Homo sapiens: one gene and its partners. The protein of the gene in region 2 purifies or fractionates together with the protein of the main gene of each other region. This does not show direct contact. Each region holds a gene or a part of one and is shown on either strand. Other genes may lie near its edges.

Region 1 (4,127 bases), on a different chromosome or scaffold from region 2:
GCGGGCGTGGGAAGGGTTGGAATACATTTTTGCTCACACACACAATGGTATATACTATTTCAGGAGGTGCACAGACCCTTTTTGTACCCTCAGATCCCCCTATATTTGAAGATTCTGATTCAAACCAACCTCCTTAAGAAACTGAGGCCCCAGTTTCAGACGACTTTCCCCCAGTGCCAGTCAACAGGCACACCAGCAGAGTCCAGATAGAGCCCAGTTCTTCCGATCTCCCCCAATACATACACACACACACACACACACACACACACACACACACACACACACACCGCACTGAGGTGGAGGAGGTGGGAGAATGGTTTTAATCAATACTCAACACTTCAGTACCTCAGGGTTACTGGCTTATCTCCTGATAAGCCCTCAGGAGTCTTACTTATAGCAAAACCTCTAGGCCTTTACTGTGGAGAGGCCTTTGCAACACTCAAATCCCAGGACCTTGTAACTGAACCTTTCCAATCAAAGGAGATCAAGAAACTCAAGGCGGGGGGAGTGGGGAGGGACAGCATTAGGAGATATACCTAATGCTAAATGACGAGTTAATGGGTGCAGCACACCAGCATGGCACATGTATACATATGTAACTAACCTGCACATTGTGCACATGTACCCTAAACTTAAAGTATAATAATAATAATAATAAAAAGATGATTATTACAAAAAGACAAAAGATAACAAGTGTTGGTGAGGATGTAGAGAAAAGGGAACCCTCGTACACTATTGGTGAAAATGTAAACTGGTACAGCCATTTTGAAAAATAATGAGGCAGTTCCTCCAAAAATTAAAAATATAACTACCATATGATCCAGCAATTTCTCTTCTGGACATATATCCCAAAGAAATAAAAAAAGTATTTCAAAGAGAAAAAAAAAAAAGAAAACTCAAGGCCTCCATGGCCTACCTGGGGAGTCACATAACTCACCCTGGCTCAGCCCTGGGTCCCAAGCTTACAGCAGTTGGCAAGGAAGAGTGTTCAGTGCAATAACAGGCAATACCACTCATATGCCCTCCACTCTGAGGAAATAACCTCTATTTAGAGACTAAACAAAGGTGCCTCTTGCAAGTCTAAAAAAGAAAAGAAGCTACAAAGGTTGCCCACCAGTCAAAGAACCTAATCATCTCAGTCTATATTCATTTGTGAACTCCTCCTCTCACTAGACACTAAGAGATTATCCGCTTAAGGTTCAATAGTTTTTTGTTTGAGACAGAATCTCACTGTGTTGCCCAGGCTGGAGTGCAGGGGCGCGATCTCAGCTCACTGCAACCTCTGCCTTCCGGTTCAGGCGATTCTCCTGCCTCAGCCTCCAAAAGTAGCTGTGACTACAGACATGCACCACCACTCCCGGCTAATTTTTGTATTTTTAATAGAGACGGGGTTTCACCATGTTGGCCAGGCTGGTCTCGAACTCCTGGCCTCAAGTGATCCATCCACCTCAGCATCCCAAAACGCTGGGACTGCAGTCGTGCACCACCACACCCGGCCTCAATAGAATTTTCAAGAAAGGAACACAGGGTTATAAGAGAAAGCACCTGAACAAGACCATGGAGCTTTTGTAGAAGACCTTTCACATTGCAAGCTAAAGTCAACTGTGGCCCCTCTCATAATGACTTTCAGTCTGCCTTCAAATAGTTTAACAAAGGTTTTTTGTTTGTTTTTAAGTACTATAAACAAGACAGAACCCTTACAACTGATAACAAAGTCCCCAGGAACAGTGAGTGAGTGAGAGAGAGAGAGAGAGAGAGAGGGAGAGAGAGAGAGAGAGAGATATCCAGGACCCCCAAGAGAATTGATGGGGTTAATGTGAGTCAAAAGCACTATGAGTCACATCAGGGGGACAGGCCCACTGGCAGCGAGATAACTTCAGAAACTGGAGCAGGTGTGAGCCCCCTGGGATGCAGCCAGGCAGAAAACTTGGAAAGGGTGGCATGCTCGGGTGAAAGGGATTAGGGAGAGCTAGACACGCTCTGGAGTCTAAGGCCCTCAGGCCTTAACTGTGCCAGCTGGGAAGATTACATATACAAAAAGGCATCCTCCCTTACCCACGTGGCCCAATCAAAGCACCCAGCCTCTTATAAGGGCTTTGCGGCTCATTAAAGTTAAGTTCAAATTGGCACCAGGGTCCTAGACGCACAGTCCTAGGGTCCTGGGAGCCAAAAGGTACCCTGTAATCTCTGCCAATGTTACAACAAACTTAAGTAAGAGCCGAAGTAGGTCAAGCATTTAATCCTAAAAATGTTCTCCAAAGGAAGATGAAGGGCTAGAGGTAACATAGAACTCCAAATATTATCTTTCTGACAAGGGGCTACCCCGACGCGGCTACCAACCACACCCCGGATGAGCAAGGCCAAAGGAATTTTAGGGAACACCCAACTTCCTCCCTTAAAAGTGCTGCTTTGCTTTTAATATCAAACTCAGTGCTAGAAGTCGCCAAAGTGGGGGCGAGGTTCTCCCAACCAAAGGCCGGCGGGCTTATGTCCGGTCGGAGGTACAGTGGGCGAGCGCCCCTTATCATAGAGCCCAAATGCCCATGCGTGGCCCACTTCTTCCGCCGGGGCCAGCCCGAAGCTCTAGGGGAAGACGATGGCACCCCAGGCTACCGCCCTGCCAGCCCCTTCCACGCCCCGCCACCTACCGCAGTGCTGCCCGCCTCATTGCGCTAGGCTGCCGTGCGCGCGATGGAGAACCGGGCCCCGCGCGCTAGTCGGCGGAGGGAAACTGAGGCGATAAAAGACGCACGAGTACCAGACCGCGCCCTTGCTGAGGACAGCCCGGGAGCCGGACAGCGGTGTCCGGGGGCGGGACCGCGGCGTCCAGGGGGCGTGGCCGCGCTGTGCCGGGCGGACCCTACCCGTTCATTGGCGGGAGGCTGGAGTCCGCCTCTGCGGAGCTTCCCACTCAATCAGTTGTGCGGGTCGTGTTGCTACAGCGAGGACCGGCCTATTCTCGGTTGAGTAAACGAACCACGCAGCAACGCCAGGGCGTGACGTCGAGAAGAGGCCCGGCTCTGCCTAGTGGAGCTTGTCTCCTTTATCCTTGATCCCCGCGCCTTGGCTCCGTCTGTTCTTCCCCTTGGCTGCACATTGGAATCTCCTGGGCAACTTTCCAAAATACTGATACTTGGCCGGGCGCGGTGGCTCACGCCTGTAATTCCAGCACTTTGGAAGGCCTAGGCGGGCAGATCACCTGAGGTCAGGAGTTCAAGACCAGCCTGGCCAACATGGCGAAACCCTGTCTCTACTAAAAATTCAAAAATTAGCCAGGCGTGGTGGCAGACGCCTGTAATCCCAGCTACTCGGGGGACAGGCACGAGTATCGCTTGAACCTGGGAGGCGGAGGTTGCGGTGAGCCGAGATCGCACCACTACACTTCAGCTTGGGCGACAGAAGGAGACAATGTCTCAAAAAAAAAACAACAAAAAACTGATGCTTGAGACCCACTGGCTGGAGATTCTAGTTTAGTCCTGGGTGCGGTCTGGGCTTCGGGATGATGTCTAAAGATGCCCCCAGGTGATGCTAATGTAACCAAAGGCTAAAAACCACTGACCTAACAGGAAAAAATTGTTCCTCTCCTCTTCTCGGCCTGACCCCCAATGTTTGATATCTTGGGCGAGCTAGAGAGATTCAAGGCCAGAGAGTTTAAGATTATTTCACCCTACGATCTAATTCTCCATTTCTTTCAACGAATTATTATTGAGCTGTTTGCATTGTGCCAGGCACTATTGCAGAGGTTGGGGTTGCAAAAAGAAAAAAGGACAAAAATCCCCGCCCTTAAGGGGCTTGCCTCTTGATAAGGAAGGAAAACAAATCAACAAACAAGTTAGCAAATAACATGATCTCAAATATGGTAAAGCGGTTTAAAGGGGAAATAAGGTAACGAGTGGGGATCTTTTGAGAATATAAGCAAGTCTTGCTTTGCCTCTAAATACGGCAATTTCCTAAAAGGCAAGGGCCATATGCTTTTTCGCAATACCCCATACTTAGTAAAAATGTATTGATTTGAATTAAGCTAGCTTTCTGTTTTGAATCACTTCATGAGTTACACATGGAGCATGGTCTTCGGCTTTCTCTTTCTACTGAATTTTCCCTGCTTTTATCAATCTCACATCTGGAAG
Region 2 (3,500 bases):
GTGAGCCGAGACTGGGCCACTGCACTCCAGCGTGGGTGACAGAGGAAGACTCTGTCTCAAAAAAAAATATATATATATATAAATATATAAAATATATAAATATATAAAAATATATATAAATATATAAAAATATATATATGAATATATATGGGGTGTGTGTGTATATATATAATTCTGTATATTGAACTTCTTTTCTGTGATCTTGATAAATTCACTTATCCATTTTAGAAGTCTTTCTGTAGGTTCCTTGGGATTTTCTACATAGAAAATTATGTAGGATTTTAGGTGGGCATGGTGGCTCATGCCTGTAATCCCAGTACTTTGGGAGGCAGAGGCGGGTGGATCACCTGAGGTTGGGAGTTCGAGACCAGGCTGGCCAACATGGCGAAACTCTGTCTCTAGTAAAAATACAAAAATTGGCCGGGCATGGTGGCACATGCCTGTAGTCCCAGCTACTCAGGAGGCTGAGGCAGGAGAATCGCTTGAACCCAGGGGACAGAGGTTGCAGTGAGCCGAGACTGCACCACTGTACTTCAGCCTGGGTGACAGAGCGAGACTCCATCTCAAAAAAAAGAAAATTATATAGGATTTTCTATGTTACAATAAAGACAGTTTTACTTATTATTTTCTAATCTTTATGCCTTTTATTTCCTTTTTTTACTTTACCGCACTGGCTAGGATTTCCAGCATCACGCTGAATATAGTGGTGAGAGTGGATGTCTTTGCCTCGTTCCTGATCTTAAGAGGAAAGCATTCAATCCTTCACCATTAAATAGTTTATTGGCTATGGGTTTCTTATAAGTACTTTATCAGGGCCGGGTGTGGTGGCTCATGCCTGTAATCCCAGCTCTTAGGGAGGCCAAGGTGGGTGGATCACCTGAGGTTGGGAATTCGAGACCAGCCTTGCCAACATGGTAAAACCCTGTCTCTACTGAAAATACAAAAATTAGCTAGGCGTGGTGGCTGGCACCTGTAATCCCAGCTACTCGGGAGGCTGAGGCAGGAGAATCACTTGAACCTGAGAGGCGGAGGTTGCATTGAGCTGAAATTGCACCACTGCACTCCAGCATGGGTGACAAGAGCAAAACTCCGTCTCAGAAAAAAAAAAGAAGTGCTTTATCAGGGTAAAAAGTTCCCTTTTATTCCCAGTTTGCTGAGTTCTTATCATGAATAAACGTCTAATTTTGTCAAATACTTTTTCTGCATCTACTTAGATCATACAGTTTTTCTTCTTTGGAATGACACAGTGAATTAACTTATTTTTGAATGCTGAATCTACTATGTTTTTCCAGAATAAATCCTCCTTAGTTGTGATGTATTATCCTTTTTATACATTGCTAGGTTTTGTTTTTTTTTTTGAGACGGAGTCTCGCTCTGTCGCCCAGGCTGGAGTGCAGTGGTGCAATCTCGGCTCACTGCAAGCTCCGCCTCCCGGGTTCCAGCGATTCGCCTGCCTCAGCCTCCCAGGAAGCTGGGACTACAGGCACCTGCCACCACGCCCGGCTAATTTTTTTGTATTTTTAGTAGAGACGGGGTTTCACCGTGTGTTAGCCAGGATGGTTTCGATCTCCTGATCTCACGATCCACCCACCTTGGCCTCCCAAAGTGCTGGAATTACAGGCGTGAGCCACCGCGCCCGGCCATACATTGCTAGGTTTGATATGCTAATGTTTCATTAAAGATTTTTGTCTATATTCATAGGAAATATTGTCAGTAGTTATTTCTCATAATATCTTTTTCTGATTTTAGCATCAGGGTAATGCTGATACTAAAATTCACAAAATGAGTTACAAAGTGTTCCCTCTTCTTCCATTTTCTTGAGGAAACTATGTGGAGTTGGTATTATTTCTTCCTTAAATATTTAGTAGAACTGACCAGTGAAGCCATCTGGGTCTGGAATTTTCTTTTAGAAAGGTATTTAGAAATGAATTCAATTTCTTTCCATCTTTTTTTTTTTTTTTTTTGAGATGGACTGTCGCTCTGTCACCCAGGCTGGAGTGCAGTGGCCCAATCTTGGCTCACTGCAACCTCTGCCTCCTGGGTTAAAGTGATTCTCCTGCCTCAGCCTCCCAAGTAGCTAGGATTACACGCATGCGTCACCATGCCTGGCTAATTTTTGTATTTTTCATAGAGACAGGGTTTCACCATGTTGGCCAGCCTGGTCTTGAACTCCTAACCTCAGGTGATCCACCCACCTCCACTTCCCAAAGTGCTGCAGTTACAGGCGTGAGCCACGGTGCACAGCCCCAATTTCTTTAACAGATATAGGACTACTCAGGTTTACCATTTCTTTTTGAACTGTGTCTCTAAACAGTAGAATTATTGACACTGTAGTTTATTTAGGATAATTATTTGTAGGAGGCTTAGCACATCCCTGGCCTCTACCCACTATGTGCCAGTAGCACCCTTCCAGTTGTAACAATCAAAAATTTCTTCAGGGCTGGGCGCAGTGGCTCAAGCCTGTAATCCCAGCACTACGGGAGGGTGAGGTGGGCAGGTCATGAGGTCAGGAGATCGAGACCATCCTGGCTAACATGGTGAAACCCCGTCTCTACTAAAAATACAAAAAAAAATTAGCTGGGCATGGTGGTGGGCGCCTGTAGGCCCAGCTACTCAGGAGGCTGAGGCAGGAGATTCGCTTGAACCCGGGAGGCAGAGGCTGCGGTGAGCCAAGATCATGCCACTGCACTCCAGTGTGGGCAACAGAGCAAGACTCTGTCTCAAAACAAAACAAAACAAAACAAAATGAACTATTTCTCGGCCAGGCACTGTGGCTTACACCTGTAATCCTAGCACTTTGGAAGGCCGAGGAGGGTGGATCCCCTGAGGTCAGGAATTGAAGACCAGCCTGTTCAACATGGTGAAACCCTGTCTCTACTAAAAAATTACAAAAATTTGGCTGGGCGCCATGGCTCACGCCTGTAATCCCAGCACTTTGGGAGGCCGAGGCGGGCGGATCACGAGGTCAGGAGATCGAGACCATCCTGGCTAACACGGTGAAACCCCATCTCTACTAAAAATACAAAAGATCAGCCAGGCGAGGGGGTGGGCGCCTGTAGTCCCAGCTACGCGGGAGGCTGAGGCAGGAGAATGGCGTGAACCCCGGGGGGCGGAGCCTGCAGTGAGCTGAGATGGCGCCACTGCACTCCAGCCTGGGTGACAGAGCGAGACTCTGTCTCAAAAAAAAAAAAAAAAAAAAAAATTAGCCAGGTATGATGGAGGGTGCCTGTAATCCCAGCTACTCGGGAGGCTGAGGCAGGAGAAATTGCTTGAACCCAGGGAGGTGAACCCAGGGAGAAATTGCTTGAACCCAGTGCAGTGAGCCGAGAACTCGCCACTGCACTCTAGCCTGGGTGACAGAGCAAGACTCCATCTCAAAAAAAAAAAAAAAAAAAAAAAAGGACCACTTCTCTTAAGTGAGCTTTGGCAGTTTGTGTCTTGTAAGGAATTGACCTATTTCATCTAAGTTGTCAAATTTATGGGCATAACATTGTCTGTAA
Region 3 (3,500 bases), on a different chromosome or scaffold from region 2:
TAATTTTTTTTTTTTTTTTTGGGGGAGAAGTCTCGCTGTGTCTCCCATGCTGGAGTGCAGTGGTGTGATCTCGGCTCACTGCAACCTCCACCTCTCGGGTTCAAGCGATTCTCCTGCCTCAGCCTCCTAAGTAGCTGGGATTACAGACGTCTGCCACCACGCCCGGTTAATTTTTGTATTTGTTAGTAGAGCCGGGATTTTGCCATGTTGACCAGGTTTTGTAATGGAATTTAGTGGGAAAAGAGGGCAATCATTATTACATAAGCTTATAAAATATATTGTTTTCTAGGCTATATAAAGCAGTAAAGTCTAGGAATAACAATTTAAATGATTATATTTGAATTATAAGAAGTAAACAATTTATGATATTTAAAAAGTGACATTTTCCCTAAATTTGAACCGACCATCTCCTCTCTTTTTCATTTAAAAAACTTTTTTTTTTTTTTTTTTTAGGTGAAAGACCAAAGAAACCAATCCCTCTTCAGGATCAGACTGTCAGAGATGAAAAAGGAAGGTATAAACGATTCCACGGGGCCTTTAGTGGAGGTTTCTCTGCTGGATACTTCAATACTGTTGGCTCAAAAGAAGGTATCATTTTCCTAATTGTAGCTATTATACCATTAAAGCAAATGATCAAAATATTGATTCTCCCTCACCCTTGCTTTTTTTTTTTTTAATTTTGAGACAAGAGTCTCGCTCTGTCGCCCAGGCTGGAGTGCTGTTGTGTGATCTTGGCTTACTGCAACCTCCGCCTCCTGGATTAAGCGATTCTCCTGCCTCAGCCTTCCAATTAGCTGGGATAACAGGCGCATGCCACTATGCCTGGCTAATTTAAAAAAAAATACTTTTAGTAGAGACAGGAGTTTCACCATGTTGGCCAGGCTGGTCTCAAAGTCTTGACCTTGAGTGATCTGCCCACCTTGGCCTCCAAAAGTGCTGGGATTGCAGGTGTGAGCCACTGCACCCGGCCACCTTTGCTTTTTTTTTTTTTTTTGCGATGGAGTCTTGCACTGTTGCCCAGGCTGGAGGGCAGTGGTGTGATCTTGGCTCACTGCAACCTCCGCCTCCCGGGTTCAAGCGATTCTCCTGCCTCAGCCTCCCAAGTAGGTGGAATTACAGGCGCCTGCCACCATGCCCAGCTAATTTTTTTTGTGTTTATAGAGACAGGGTTTCACTATGTTGGCCAGTGTGGTCTCTAACTCCTGGCCTCAAGTGATCCGCCTGTCTTGGCCTCCCAAAGTGCTGGGATTACAGGTGTGAGCCACTGCGCTCAGCTTTCTCTGAACATACACTGTAACCTCTTGTGTTCTTTGGATATTTGGATGTTTCCAGAGTCAACTTGTATCTTGTTCATTGATTGCAACCTTATGGTTAAAGAGTTTTCTTTCACTTTGTAAAAAAATGCATACCTCCTAATCAGATGATTAAATGATAATAATGACTTTGGTTTTTATTGTGTCTTGCCATTCACGAAATACTCTTAAACAGAGTCTTTCAGTTAATCATTGACTGTCTCTCGTGACTGAGTGAGTGAGGAGGGCAGGTGTCACAGGGATCTTGCAGATGATGCCACCAAGGGTCAGAGAGGTTAAGGAGCCAGCATGGCGTTAGTGCTGAGGGAAGAGTCACCAGGTGCCCTCTTCAGACACTGGGGACCACAGCAAGACTGGCTCCTCAGTGCTCTCTACCTGGGGAAAAGTCAGTTAAATCTTTTATGTTATGTACTTTTATAAATGCCAAGTTGTTTAAAGTATTGTATGTTTTAAGATATATTAATCTAGAAGCATTTTTTTGAACTGGAAGAAATGGCTTTCTATATCTCAGTTATGAATGGAAGATGAACTGATTTTATTATATGTGCTGCCATAGTGAGCACGGAAGATGAACTGATTAATTCACATAGCAATTATCAAGAAAAAGATGGGCTAGATCTTTTATAATTTTTTTTTTTTTTTCCTGAGATGTAGTCTCACTCTGTCGCCCAGGCTGGAGTGCAATGGCATGACCTCGGCTCACTTCAACCTCCGCCTCCTGGGTTCAAGCAATTCTCCTGCCTCAGCCTCCCGAGTAGCTAGGACTACAGGTGCCCGCCACCACACCCGGCTGATTTTTGTATTTTAGTAGAGATGGGGTTTCACCATGTTGTTCAGGCTGGTCTCGAACTCCTGACCTCAAGTGTTCCACCCGCCTCAGCTTCCCCAAGTGCTGGGATTACAGGCGTGAGCCACCATGCCCGGCCTTACCATTTTATTTAATTAATTGATTTATTTTTTGAGACAGGGTCTCACTCTGTCGCCCAGGCTTTAGTGCAGTGGTGCACCTACTGAGAGTAGACCTTCCCCAGATGCCTCAGCTCACAGGGCCCTTGGAGAGAATCAGGAAGGAGGTGCAACCCTCTTAGAGAAAACTAAACAACTTTATGTGCAGAGGTTACAGACATATGTGACCTCCAGAGCATTCCCTGTTTGTGGACGTGGCACATGCTCGGTAACCGTGGTCAGGGAACAAGGCCATTGGTTACAGGATTCCAGTGTCTGTTGAAACTGGGGGACTGGCAGAGCCGCTGCCCTTGGACCTGCCAGGTTGAGTCTTTGGTCAGGGTACTGTGAATGTTGCCTGGATTCCTTCTGTTACTCTCTCTTTATCCACTCTGACTGATTAAAACACCTTGACATCATATCTTTACACTTGATCTTAGCCAAAAGGCCTAGAAGCGATGACATCATTTCTTTAGATATGTTAATATGCCAGTGGAGGTTGCTGGTCTCACGTCCTGCATTTTAAGGTGACCTTGCATCTGTCAGCTCAGATCTGCTTGTGTTCATTTCACAGTTTAACTTTCAATGTGTAATTCTATATCTCTTGGTTTCACTTTCTTATGGGGAAACCTTAATGTATCCACTAAGTTTTACATCAGGGGATACAGGGATTAATAAGAAATTTATGTGGAATAATTACGTCTATATAAGCACTGAGATGGGAAGTAGCTAAGAGTTTATAGTTATTGGGAATTTCAAGTCCATACATGTTATTTAATCATTTACTCATAGACCCAAATACTCTCTAGGATTGTAAAGTTCTAAACTCTTTTTTTTTCAGGATGGACACCCTCTACCTTTGTGTCTTCACGACAGAACAGAGCAGACAAATCTGTTCTTGGTCCTGAAGATTTTATGGATGAAGAGGTGCGTGTGCAAAACTTTAATTGCCAATTAGCTGGTGGGACAGGTCTAGTTGGTTGCTGTAACTGCCTTCTCTCTCCCCAGAAGGTCCAATGTACGATTTCCTCTTTGTTTGTAAGGCTTTATCTTTTAGGTATTTGATGTGCAGTGTCCTGTACATCAGTAGAGTCTTGTTCATTGGAGGAGCATTTTATACTGGGGCCAATTTCTAAAATCAAGAGTGTAAGGGGAAAGTCATATACAGGCAATTTACTTGAAAAGCCTCGTGGCTGGGTGCGGTGGCTCACGCCTGTAATCCCAGCACTTTGGGAGGCCGAG
Region 4 (2,439 bases), on a different chromosome or scaffold from region 2:
TTACAGGTGTGAGCCACCACGCCCAGCTCCTTTTTTAAAAGGGTTACAGCCCTGTGCTGTTTGTGGCCTGAAAATACTTGCTTTACATATTTTGCCCAAGTTTACTGTTGTTTACAGCAGAAGAGAAAGTCTGAAACCTTTTTCTCCATTAGGGCCAGAATTGGACTACACAATGTTTCCAAAGCGATATTTGAATTGATTGCCACATTGAAAAATTGGGAGATTTCATATTAAACATGAATTTCTGGTTTCTCTTGAAAGACATGTTTAGTCTGGCAACACTAGGCTTGCGTTCCTACGTGGTGGCATCACAGGGGCTTAGGGGTGGCTGCCTGCTGTTAGTGACATCGCCAGGTGCCGTAGTCCCATGTCACTTGCTTACTTGCCTGCTGCACTCTTGGAGACATTTGAATTTGTGACCCTGTAAATGGAAGGATCTCCTCATCTCTCCTGCTCCAGCAAAGTCAAGGGACATTGCCCTCTCAAAATTTTATAATATTTAATTTTTATGTAATCAAACAAAAACCATTTCACACCTTTATAGTTCTTCACACATCCCAATTCAGATATTTCAGCTGGAAAGCAGATCAGCCTGCAGGGACTGATAAAAATGCAGTGTGTGTTGTCTTTGCTGAATTAGGTTGATAAGAATAAACCTGGTGAAAGAAAGGCTTTTCCTTCAAAACCTCTCAGGTGGAAAGCAGCAGACTTCAGGAGTCAAGAGAAGGGATCAGAAAGGTAAACTAGAGGTTGAAAGAGGAATGGTGCAGTGGTCAAAATGCCTGTTAAAGTAAGAAGATGCAGACAGCCAGAGAAGGATAAGCCTGAAATTGTCTTGGATTCATTTAGACTCTTGGAAACAGAATTAGCCCAGAAGCTGAGTCATTTTCCCTTCTCAGCTCAAAATTCCAGTTTCTTTAGGTCAAACCCACAAAGTTAAAGAGCAAATAGCTTCAGAAATTTGAAGAAAATAACAAGCCCAAATTTCTTCATTTGTCTCTTCTCTCCAAATGGCTTTTTTATTTTTAAGCTCATCACCTCCACTGTCATCGGAGTATTTTTAGAGAGGCTGGGACAGACCTTTAGAAATCACCTAGTGCGGCCGAGCACGGTGGCTCACGCCTGTAATCCCAGCACTTTGGGAGGCTGAGGTGGGTGGAACACATGAGGACAGGAGTTCGAGACCAGCCTGGCCAACATGGTGAAACCCCGTCTCTACTAAAAATACAAAAATTAGCCGGGCATGGTGGCATGTGCCTGTAATCCCAGCTACTTGGGAGGCTGAGGCAGGAGAATCACTTGAACCTAGGAGGTGGAGGCTGCAGTGAGCCGAGATCACACCACTGCACTCCAGCCTAGGCGACAGAGCAAGACTGTCCCCCCAAAAAAAAAAAAAAAAAAAAAAAAAAGAAATCACCTAATACAACAACCTCATTGTATAACGATGGTCCCCAAACCACAGAGAAACTTGTGTTGTTTCTTAACTGTATAGTCCAAGGGCACTTCTACTATTAACTTGTCCAAAGCAGATTGATTTCTCAAAGAACCTCCAGATCTACAGGGGTTGCCCATGTATGGTAGATGTTCCTTTACTGAACACAGTGCAGCACCTCACAACCTTCCACAGCCCACAGATCATTCACGGCTCTGTTCCTGGCACCTTTGGAGACTTTCCATCACCACTGTTTTTCGGAATGTTGCTCTCACCCTGTGTGGAGGCCTGAAATGGTTCAGAGTCAGCTTTGTTTATATTCAACATTCTTCCCAGAAAAAAGCACCAAAAATGGCCCCACAGGCACAATGGCGTCATCTCCCATCCCCAAGCTAAGGCCGTGGATATCTAACATTAGCTGTAGGGGTTATATCAGGTGACGTGTAGAGAGAGAATTCAGAGAAATTCAGCAAGACCTACAGCTAGACAGGGGAAGAACGGGGTGACCTATTCAGAGATTTGCCTTCTGGCTTTTAAATTATTTTTCCTTATTCTCAGAGATATCTTCATTATTAGGGAAAACCCTTTTAACGAGGCCTTTGCAAGAGCCTGTAGTAGTCCTCCCTCAGGTGTAAGCAGATGGAAAGTCTGAGTTCTTGTAGCTCATTTATACCCGGGTCCTGTTCGCTCTGTTGTCTCTCACGTCATACCTGGTGGTGCGCTGTGTCTTCGTTCACGCCCTCCATTTTTTCAGGGCCTGCAGTTCTCTCTGGGGGCGATGCGGCTTGATGTTGTGGGGCCATGTGGCTGTGCTAAGTAGTGGGCACACCAGCTCCGGAGCAGTCAGGGTGGGCATTCTCATGTGAGGCTCCCACTGTGTGTTAGTTGGCACGGCTTAGGGATCTCTTGGTTATTGATGATTAGTAATGGGCTGTCGGGTATATCCCAGTTGATGAGTGGAGGGAGGTCTTTCATTAAAAGCTTGTATTTACACACTCTGCCTCAAA
Region 5 (3,500 bases), on a different chromosome or scaffold from region 2:
ATAGGTACACGCCACTATGCCTGGCTAATTTTTTGTATTTTTAGTAGAGACGGGGTTTTACCATGTTGGTCAGGCTGGTCTCGAACTCTTGACACCCACCTTGGCCTCCCAAAGTGCTGGGATTACAGGCTTGAGCCACTGTGCCTGGCCTACCTCATATATTGATATATTTTTGGAGACAGGGTCTCACTCTGTTGCGCAGGCTGGAGTCCAGTGATGTGATCATGGCTCACTGCAGCCTCAACCTCCAGGGATCAAGCAATCCTCCTGCCTCAGCCTCCCACGTAGCTGGGACTACAGGCACACGCCACCATGCCCGGCTAATATTTGTATTTTTTGTAGAGACACGGTCTCACATATTGCCCAAGGTGGTCTTGAACTCCTGGGCTCAAGTGATCTGCCCATCTTGGCCTCCCAAAATGCTAGGATTATAGGCGTGAGCCACTGTACCTATCCTAATAAAATATTTCAGAACCAAATGGAACATTTTATTACTTTATATATTTCTTTATTTAAAGAGAGTCTTGCTCTGTTGCCCAGGTTGGAGTGCAGTGGCATAATCTTGGCTCACCGTGGCCTCAATCTCCCAGGCTTATACAATCCTCCCACCTTAGCCACCCAGGTAGCTGGGACTACAGGCATGAGCCACCATGCTTGGCTAGTTTTATTTTATTCTTGTAGAGACAAGGTCTCACTATGTTGTCTAGGCTGGTCTCAAACTTCTGGGCAGTCTTTCCACCTCAGCCTTGCAGAGTGGTACGATTACAGGCATGAGCCACTGTGCTCAGCCCCAAATGGAATATTTTAGAGGGTATTTACAACAACAGCATTAGCTACCAGTCCCTTTCCATTCACTTTTGTAACTTCTATCTTACAAGACAGATTGTTCTTTTTTTTTTGAGACAGTCTTACTCTGCCACCCAGGCTGGAGTGCAGTGTCGTGATCTTGGCTCACTGCAGCCTCTGCCTCGAGGGTTCAAGGGATTCTCATGCCTCAGCCTCCAAGTAGCTGGGATACAGGTGTGAACCACCATGCCTACCTAATTTTTATACTTTTTTTTTTTTTTTTTTTTGAGACCGAGTCTCGCTCCGTCGCCCAGGCTAGAGTCTAGTGGCGTGATCTCGGCTCACTGCAAGCTCCGCCTCCCAGGTTCACGCCATTCTCCTGCCTCGGCCTCCCGAGTAGCTGGGACTACAGGCACCTGCCACCACACCCGTCTAATTTTTTTGTATTTTTAGTAGAGACGGGGTTTCACCGTGTTAGCCAGGATGGTCTCCATCTCCTGACCTCGTGATCTGCTCGCCTTGGCCTCCCAAAATGCTGGGATTACAGGCATGAGCCACCGTGCCCTGCCTAATTTTTATACTTTTAGTAGAGATGGGGTTTCACTATGTTGGCCAGGCTGGTCTCGAACTCCTGGCCTCAAGTGATCCACCCACATCGGCCTCCCAAAGTGCTGGGACTGCAGCCCGGCCAAGATAGATTGTTCTTAGCCTCTCACATGTGGTAGATGGCTTGTGGCTGGGCATAGCCAGCACCAGCACGTGGCAGGGGCTTACTGCTTGCTGGGGAAGGGCCTGGGCCTGGCTGCCTGAACAGAATCCTGGTGCTGCTGCTTATTTAAGCTGTGTAACCTTGACCAAGTGATTTCACACCTCAGTTGTCTCATCTGCAGAACAGCTGTCGGTCATGAAGATTAAGCAAGTCAGTTCATATAAAACACATATACAGTGTCCGGCACATGGTAAATAATCAATGTTAGCTAGTATTCATTACTACCACCAACACTACTAGTATTGCAATTTTATCCTGCAGCTATACTTTTGCTGGAGCTGGTTATCACAAGAAAATGAGCATGAAGTTCAACCCAGGAACTTAAACTGTCAGCAGAAGTAGAACCAGGAGAGTGACAGGATGAAATGGGGCTGAGGATGAGGTGGTGACACCACACAAAAGAGCAATTCGGCTTTTCCTCCCTGGCTTGGAAATCTGGGGGAGTGTTCATGCACACAGACAATAAGAAACACCTGGGAGGAGCCTACTCTGTGACTAAACCCTACACACTGTGATGCTATAGACAGGAGAGTGATTTTTCTTGACCAAATAATCTGCTCATTAAGGGCCAGTGGCAAATACCTGTGAGGCCTATCATGCTAGAAAAAACTCAAAAACGAACAAAAGACTGCATGAAAAGGTGCTCAACATCATTAGTCATTAGAGAAATGAAAATAAAAACCACAACGAGATACCACTTCACATTTGCTGTAAAGTGACACAACCCGAGTGTCCACCCACAGGTGAATGGATAAACAACATGTGGTCTACATATAACGGACCATGACTTCGGCATGAAGTGCTGATACATGCCACAACATGATGAACCTTGAAAACATCATAGGCATTATGATTCCTCTTATATGAAATACCTAGAATAGTCAAATTCATAGAAACAGAAAGTAGATTTGAGATTACCAGGGTTGGCGGAAGGGAATGGGGAGTTACTGTGTAACGGTACAGAGTTTCTGCTTGGAGTGATGAAAAGCTGTGAAAATAGACAGTGGTGATGGTTGTACAACACTGTGAATATAATTAATGCCACTGGTTTGTACACTTAAAAATGGTTAAAACTGCAAATTTTATGTTAGATATTTTACCACAGTAAAACGTATTTAAAAAACAACAAGCAAGGCCAGGTGCAGTGGCTCATGCCTGTAATCCTAGCACTTTGGGAGGCCGAGGCGGGCAGATCACCTGAGGTCAGGAGTTTGAGAACAGCCTGGCCAACATGGTGAAAACCTGTCTCTACTACAAATACAAAAATTAGCTGGGCGTGGTGGCACGTGCCTGTAATCCCAGCTACCCGGAAGGCTGAGGCAGGAGAATTGCTTTAACCCAGGAGGCAGAAGCTGCAGTGAGCTGAGATTGGCGCCACTGCACTCCAGCCTAGGCAACAGAGCAAGACTTCATCCAAACAAACAAACAAACAAACAAACCAAAAAACACCCCAAACAACAAGCAAACAAACAAAACTAACAAAAGGCCATTTCTCCTGCTTTCCAATACATTTGGAAAGGGCACGTCATCTATTTTCTATGGACACATGCTTCATTAGTGTTCTTCTAATTAAAAATACACACTTTTTTCAGCTTACCCCTCCTTTCCAATTCCATCAAAATATCTAACTTATTTTTAATAAGTTACACGATACTTAAAAATATAAGTAAGTCGGCCGGGTGCAGTGGCTCGCGCCTGTAATCCCAGCACTTTGGGAGGCCGAGGCGGGTGTATCATGAAGTCAGGAGTTCAAGACCAGCCCGGCCAAGACGGTGAAACCCCATCTCTACTAAAAATACAAAAATTAGCCGGGTGTGGTGGTGGGCACCTGTAATCCCAGTTACTCAGGAGGCTGAAGCAGAGAGCTGCTTGAACCCGGGAGGCGGAGTTGCAGTCAGCCTGGGTGACAGAGCAAGACTCCGCCTCAAAAAAAAAAAAAATATAT
Region 6 (3,500 bases), on a different chromosome or scaffold from region 2:
TTTTCAAATTTATTACTTTTTCTCATAATTTCTTCTTTTGCCTTTAAGTTTAGAAGGAACTCCCTCACTCTCAAATATAGTCATTTACCATCTTAGTATATTTTATAGTTTCATTTTTACATTTTTTAAAATTTTACCTGAAATTTTTTTGGTGTATAGTGAGAGGTGAGGACTTAACATTCTTTTTGTAAACAGCCAGCCATCTAGCATCATTTATTAAGTAATTTTTCCTTTCCCTACTGGGGATATTTCAAACCAGTATACTCTTTCTTAAATACAGAAGAGCGGCTCTGCATTTTAGCTTTGTTAAATTCATTTGTCAATTTTTTTTTTTGAGATGGAGTTTTGCTCTTGTCACCCAGGCTGGAGTGCAATGGCGGCTCACTGCAACGTCTGCCTCCTGGGTTCAGGCGATTCTTCTGCCTCAGCCACCCAAGTAGCTGGGATTACAGGTGTTAGCCACCGCACCTGGCTAATTTTTGTATCTTTAGTAGAGACGGAGTTTCACCATGTTGGTGAGGCTGGTCTCAAACTCCTGACCTCACGCAATCCGCCTGCCTCAGCCTCCCAAAGTGCTGGGATTACAGGCATGAGCCACTGTGCCTGGCCCATTTGTCTATATATGAGTACCACACATTTAATTATTTTGCTAAATAATAGATTTTAATAGCTAAATTTTTTAGAAATGATAAAATTAGAATCAGTCTTCCTTCACAACTTACCTGGTTGCACTTTTTAACCACATCTGGCCCAGGTGTGGCATTGAGAAGTGCTATAATAAGGTAACGATTTAGCAGCTTCCCTAGTCCTAGTTCTTGCAAGGTGTCATCTGTAAGGAGTCCATTCCAAAGAAGAATATTGCGGAAGAGCTAAAATAAAATATCAAGTAAATATGTACCTTTTCTCCAAAGAGAAACTGTAATAGTCTCTAACAAACATGAAGAGTTGGTCAAACTAAAATTCTCACTACAATTAGCCCTGTTGGAACTGTCAATTTTAGAATACAATATCTCTGAATAAATACTTGATTCTTTCCAAACTCCATGTATTTGCTCATCTTATTTTCATTTTCTAGGATAACCATCCCCAAATCTATCTCAAATAACTTCACTAGAGCCTTTCCAGATCAATAATCTTCCTTCCCAATCCATTTTCTCTCAAAGCCGGGGGCCATCAAGTATAAGACCACAGGACCACGTGATTCATAAAGAACTACTGTCAAAACTAGGGCCGCCATTACCAACATGTGACCTTGAGAAGGCAATCAACGCTGAGAGCTTCATTCCTCTGATACATAAAGATTTATAATCACCTTTGAGTTTGAAGATAACTTGGATTAAGTAACCATAATAAATTCTAATAAAATATTGGTTGTCCTTTCCCTCTACTAAATTCAGATCTTTCTGTGAATTTTAAGGTGTTTCTTTTTTTGCAGTACTATATTCATTACTCTGAGTGCTGAACTACATGCTGTTTTACTAAAATGTAATGCTTTTTCACATTTTATCTCATTGTTGATGTTGTTCCCTCTTCCCAGAAAGCCTTTTCCCTGATTCAACCACATGACAAATATTAATTCACACTATTAAAACTACTCTTGGTGAGGTCACCTATATCCTTCTAATTGTCAAATCCAATAAACAGTGTTTCAGTCTTTCTCTTAATACTCTTTGGTGGCATTTAACACTCTTTTCTTCATTCTTGAAAATCTTTCATTTAGCTTCCTTGAGGCCATTCTCTTGTGATCATCCTAAGGCTCATAATTGATTCTACAGATTCCCTGAAGCCTCCATGTTCTCCTCTTCTGTTAGTATTTCCCGAGGTTCTGTCCTTGGCCTACTTCTCATGCTTCATCCAGTCTCCTTACGCAGCTTGCCATTCATGACCATGGCTCCAAATATTACCTACAGGTAGTGGACTCCCAAATCTCTAGCTCAGATCTGTCTCCTGAAATTCAGACTTATGTATCCAACCACCTCCTAGACCTCTGTATCTCTATTTGTCCCACATATATCTTCATTATGTACAAAATAGATCTTATCTTCCCTTGATCAGTTATCGACTCCTTTCAATGCTTCCTCCCAAACATTGTTTGAACCTTCTTCTCCTTCTCATCCCTACTGCCACTGACTTAGCAATAATTTTAAGGCCAGGGGTTAGCCAACTATATAGCTTGTGGGTTAAATCCATCCTGTTGCCTGTTTTTATAGGGTCCGTGAGCTAAGAATGGTTTTAACACTTTTCAAGGACGTTTTAAAACTGTCTTTAAACAAAATATTTTGTACCATGAGGAAATTATATGACATTCAAATTTCAGTGTTCATAAGTTTTATTCAAACAGCCATGTTCATTTGTTTATGTACTATGACTGTTTTTGTGCTACAGCGGCAGAGTTGAGTAATTCGACAGAGACCATGTGACCACAAAGCCTAAAATACTATCTAATTCTTATAGAAGAAGTTTGTTGTTCTTTGTTCTATAGTAAACAGGATTTTTACAAAAATTGCCTTTTCATTTTTGCAGTTTTTGCTCACCTTTAGGCCTGACCAGAACTGTCTTTCTTGGAACTTTGAATGAGGTGATGTTTTGTTTTCTACAGCACTAATTAGAAACAAACGAAAGAGAAGAGAAAATGCAAAGAACTATTAGTCTTTCAGAACCAGAGTTTAAGATCAGACTTTCTTTTAAACCAACCAAACTAAGCCTTAATGGAATATAAATAGAGATTGTTTATTTTATTTTATAAATAAAATATATATTTATTTATAAAATATATATTTATATATTTATAAATATGTTTATAAAATATATATTTATATATTTATAAATATGTTTATAAAATATATATTTATATATTTATAAATATGTTTATAAAATATATATTTATATATTTATAAATATGTTTATAAAATATATATTTATATATTTATAAATATGTTTATAAAATATATATTTATAAACAAATAACTAATATATCACATTCATACATCTGAACCATGTGAATGCATTATCTAAAACATTATAAACAAAGTTTACCAAGGCAGAATTTTTACATGTAGACATCTCATGATTCAAAATGAATCAGAAAGCTTTGAGGTTCCTTTCTTCCCCCTCCATAAAGCTCCTCCATCCTGTCACTACTCACTGGATTGCTACAGTTCATGCATCATTATAACTGATGGCTTCTTAGCAAAGTTATGATCATACATCAAATACTCGTTTTATAATTTAAAGTGACTGCAGAATTTACAGGTGCAGTTTCTCGTTCCTCAGCATTGTGCTTCCTCTGTGCTAGGCCCTGTTGTGTTCTGAGCATTCTCTTCATCTCCCTAATATCCTGTGAGGTAGGCACTAATTTTATCCTTATTTTATAGATGAGAAAACAAGTGCATAAAAATACCTACTAACAGTGGACGTGTGCTCTTTACCACTCTATATCACCTGCTATGTTCCTAGGATATATGTAAAACCAAAACCAAAACCAACCAAACAAAATTCAT
Region 7 (3,500 bases), on a different chromosome or scaffold from region 2:
TCCCATCACTCTCTTAAAGGTCACCCTATATTTGCCAATGTTCTCCTGAAACTATGTTATCTTCAGTAGATTCCATGAAGTTGACAATATCTTTACCTCTCAAACAGTCCTCTAAGCACTTTTATGTCTTTGTTCCTACCCCCTAGATGAAGATATACCATCCCCACCCACCAAGGTACTATCATCAACCTGCTTCCCTTCTGATTGTATTTCTTCCTTAATAATTTGATCCTCTTCTCAGCTCTATTTTTCATCATTATGGGACCAACTCTCCAAAGCCTATACTCTTCAACACTGATACTCTAGAAAGAACTCTCGGACCAGCACAGTGGCTAATGCCTGTAATCCCAGAACTTTGGGAGGCTGAGGCAGCTGGATCACCTCAGGTCAGGATTTCGAGACCAGCCTGACCAACATGGTGAAACCCTGTCTCTACTAAAAAATACAAAATTAGCCGGGCATGGTGGCACACACCCGTAACCCCAGCTACTCAGGAGGCTGAGGCAGAAGAATCGCTTGAATCCGGGAGGCAGAGGTTGCAGTGAGCCAAGACTATGCCATTGCAATTCAGTCTGGGCAACAAGAGCGAAAGTCCATCTCAAAAAATAATAATAATAACTCTCACTTCCAACTATATGTTGGATGTCCTACCAGTATTTCAAGCTCACTATCACATGTTCACTACCAAGTTCACTGCTTGATCCTCCTACTGGATCCAAAAAATCTATTTCACAGAAATAACCCAAGTACCTTAGCTGCTCTTTCCTTTCCTGGCACTAAATTCATATAGTAAAATGGCTGCCAAATATCTACAGTAATGCCCTTAATCCAAATCTACAAACTATACCAAGAACTGCATAAGTCAGGCTCATGTTAAAATCTACAACAGAATTTCAAAATGCGTATCTGATATGTGTAGTTAAAACTAAACAGTGCTCACTTCAGCAGCACATATACTAAAACTGGAAAGATAAAGAGAATATTAGCACGGCACCTGCACAAGGATGACATGCAAATTCATGAAGAGTTCCATATTAAAACAACAAAACAAATAAAGTCCTTCCTTCAATTTTTGCTTAAAGAAGTCCCACAGGATTAGTGCAAAATAAGACTGGTAACGGGAGGGCCATAGCCAAATAAAGACTAAAGGCCAAGATGAACTATGATGGGGAAGGAGAGAGAGGACATTTACAGCAAAGGAAATGAAGAAGTTTTCTAGAGAAATAAGACCAACAAGGAGGAAATGTGAAGAATAGTAAATTCAACTAAAAAAAAAAAAAAAAGCCGAGCACAGTGGCTCACACCTGTAATCCCAGCACTTTGGGAGGCTGAGGCAGGCGGGTCACCAGGTCAGGAGATCGAGACCATCCTGGCCAACATGGTGAAATCCCGTCTCTACTAAAAATACAAAAATTAGCTGGGTATGGTAGTGCGTGCCTGTAATCCCAGCTACTCGGAAGGCTGAGGCAGGAGAATCACTTGAACCAGGGAGTCGGATGTTGCAGTAAGCCGAGATCATGCCACTGCACTCCAGCCTGAGCAACAGAGCAAGACACTGTCTTAAAAAAAAAAAAAAAAAAGAGTTGAATGATCTAAGAGGCAGCAGACTGCCAGCAGGTGGGGGGAAAACAAAAGCAAAATTTGACAGTGCTTTTGAAAACAGCCAGACATTGAAAGAGCCACTAAAAGCAATACAGAGGGCTGTGGAGGAAACAACTTTAAGCTGGAACTGAAGAGTGTACCTAGAACCAGAAAAAGGAGAGTAAAAAAAGAGTAAAAAGCCCCCAAAGAACAGCACTAAAAACCTGAGTTGCCAAAACCTTAGAGTGAAACCTAGAGCTATAAATAGTTGGGAGGCTCATTAACAAGTAAGCTGTATATACCTAGCAAGATTGTATGGTAAAGCCACATACATGAAATTTCCTTTGTGTGAACATAATTTATACCTTAAGTATCCCATATACTATAGACAAGGAGTTTATCCCTCCAGTTGGCTAAACAAGTGTGTACCGGGTTGTGGGAACGCAACGATATTGGGGCTAAGTGGTAGAAATAATAAAGAAAAAATGCCACTGTCCTAAAGGCATTGTCCTAAGGGCACAGCAGCACATATACAGACTCTGGGAAAAAACCCTCCAAACCCCATTATCTCAGGCTGCAATCACTGAAAAATCTAGCCAAAAATTTCCTGGGAGACTAATTCCTGAGAACACTATATTATGTTCATTACAAATACAACAAATATCGGCCAGGCGCGGTGGCTCACGCCTGTAATCCCAGCACTCTGGGAGGCCGAGGTGGGCGGATCACGAGGTAAGGAGATCGAGATGATCCTGACTAACACGGTGAAACCCTGTCTCTACTAAAAATATAAAAAAAATTAGCCGGGTATGGTCACACACGCCTGTAATCCAAGCTACTCAGGAGGCTGAGGCAGGAGAATCACTTGAACCCGGGAGGTGGAGGTTACAGTGAGCCAAGATTGCGCCACTGCACTCCAGCCTGGGTGACAGAGCAAGACTCCGTCTCAAAAACAAAAAACAAAAAACAAAAAAAAAATACAACAAGTATCAGCTTACCCAGATAAGTAATGTTTTCAGCTAATTCACATCCATCAGCATCCTGGAAATATTTTACTGTTTCCTGGTTATTAGCACCAAGCACATATGTCTGAATAGGAGCTAGTGAGGGAAACAGACATGACACCATATAGTTACCAGATCTGCTTTAGAACTTAAGATATGCCTCTCTATAGAAAAAATACTTATATTAAAAGTAAATAGTCCATGCATTCACATTCCCCATATTTAGCAATCCTAAATGTGGAACAGCTATCCACTAAGGATATACTACACCCAACCTTGTAGCTTGGCTATTTTATTTATTTTATTTTTTTTTTTTTGAGACAGAGCCTTGCTCTGTCGCCCAGGGTGAAGTGCAGTGGTGCAATCTCGGCTCACTGCAATCTCCGCCTCCCAGGTTCAAGCAATTCTCCTGCCTCAGTCTCCCGAGGAGCTGGGATTACAGGCATGCGCCACCATGCCCTGCTAATTTTTATATTTTTAGTAGACACACGGTTTCACCATGTTGGCCAGGCTGGTCTTGAACCCCTGACCTCAGGTGATCCACATGCCTCGGCCTCCCAAAGTGCGGGGATTACAGGTGTGAGCCACTGCGCCGGATAGTCTTAATAATGAAAAGCAACTTAAATTCTTAAATACTGAAAATAACTCTTAAATTCTTAAATAATGAAAAACAACTCTGCAAGAACTCTGGCCCTTGAAATTTTATTAGAAATCATATGTTAAATAAAAATAATTTCTATACCTTTCTTGATGCCAGTCTTATACTCCTCCCATTCAGCATCTTGGGTGGAGCCAAAGAAATTTCCTACACACAACAGCAGCTAAAATGAGTTTTTTAAACAGATATATGAGATTTTAAAATATCAAACAGTACATAATTGATAGTAATATTCAACTAGTTATTTAATAGTTTCA

Evidence for each region.
Region 1: the proteins of ISY1 (region 2) and ACOT9 purify together in Homo sapiens (affinity purification with mass spectrometry, with the first as the bait; one large-scale study listed by BioGRID). This does not show direct contact.
Region 3: the proteins of ISY1 (region 2) and GPATCH1 purify together in Homo sapiens (affinity purification with mass spectrometry, with the first as the bait; one large-scale study listed by BioGRID). This does not show direct contact.
Region 4: the proteins of ISY1 (region 2) and DHX35 purify together in Homo sapiens (affinity purification with mass spectrometry, with the first as the bait; one large-scale study listed by BioGRID). This does not show direct contact.
Region 5: the proteins of ISY1 (region 2) and CPSF3 fractionate together in Homo sapiens (co-fractionation; one large-scale study listed by BioGRID). This does not show direct contact.
Region 6: the proteins of ISY1 (region 2) and GCFC2 purify together in Homo sapiens (affinity purification with mass spectrometry, with the first as the bait; one large-scale study listed by BioGRID). This does not show direct contact.
Region 7: the proteins of ISY1 (region 2) and CWF19L1 purify together in Homo sapiens (affinity purification with mass spectrometry, with the first as the bait; one large-scale study listed by BioGRID). This does not show direct contact.

The regions. Positions count from the first base shown.
Region 1 is NC_000023.11:23,740,477-23,744,603, forward strand, and holds the start of ACOT9 (acyl-coenzyme A thioesterase 9, mitochondrial isoform a precursor), read right to left. Parts: upstream 2,801-4,127; 5' UTR 2,669-2,800; coding exon 2,649-2,668; intron 1-2,648. UniProt on the Homo sapiens protein: Mitochondrial acyl-CoA thioesterase. Catalyzes the hydrolysis of acyl-CoAs into free fatty acids and coenzyme A (CoA), regulating their respective intracellular levels. Regulates both mitochondrial lipid and amino acid metabolism.
Region 2 is NC_000003.12:129,151,064-129,154,563, forward strand, and holds part of ISY1 (pre-mRNA-splicing factor ISY1 homolog), read right to left. Parts: intron 1-3,500. UniProt on the Homo sapiens protein: Component of the spliceosome C complex required for the selective processing of microRNAs during embryonic stem cell differentiation. Required for the biogenesis of all miRNAs from the pri-miR-17-92 primary transcript except miR-92a.
Region 3 is NC_000019.10:33,087,681-33,091,180, forward strand, and holds part of GPATCH1 (G patch domain-containing protein 1), read left to right. Parts: intron 1-453; coding exon 454-588; intron 589-3,099; coding exon 3,100-3,185; intron 3,186-3,500.
Region 4 is NC_000020.11:39,035,344-39,037,782, forward strand, and holds part of DHX35 (probable ATP-dependent RNA helicase DHX35), read left to right. Parts: intron 1-2,439. UniProt on the Homo sapiens protein: May be involved in pre-mRNA splicing.
Region 5 is NC_000002.12:9,444,154-9,447,653, reverse strand, and holds part of CPSF3 (cleavage and polyadenylation specificity factor subunit 3), read right to left. Parts: intron 1-3,500. UniProt on the Homo sapiens protein: Component of the cleavage and polyadenylation specificity factor (CPSF) complex that plays a key role in pre-mRNA 3'-end formation, recognizing the AAUAAA signal sequence and interacting with poly(A) polymerase and other factors to bring about cleavage and poly(A) addition.
Region 6 is NC_000002.12:75,669,416-75,672,915, forward strand, and holds part of GCFC2 (intron Large complex component GCFC2), read right to left. Parts: exon of another isoform or gene 2,901-3,500; intron 2,602-2,900; coding exon 2,535-2,601; intron 870-2,534; coding exon 723-869; intron 1-722.
Region 7 is NC_000010.11:100,257,639-100,261,138, forward strand, and holds part of CWF19L1 (CWF19-like protein 1), read right to left. Parts: intron 3,407-3,500; coding exon 3,328-3,406; intron 2,682-3,327; coding exon 2,580-2,681; intron 1-2,579.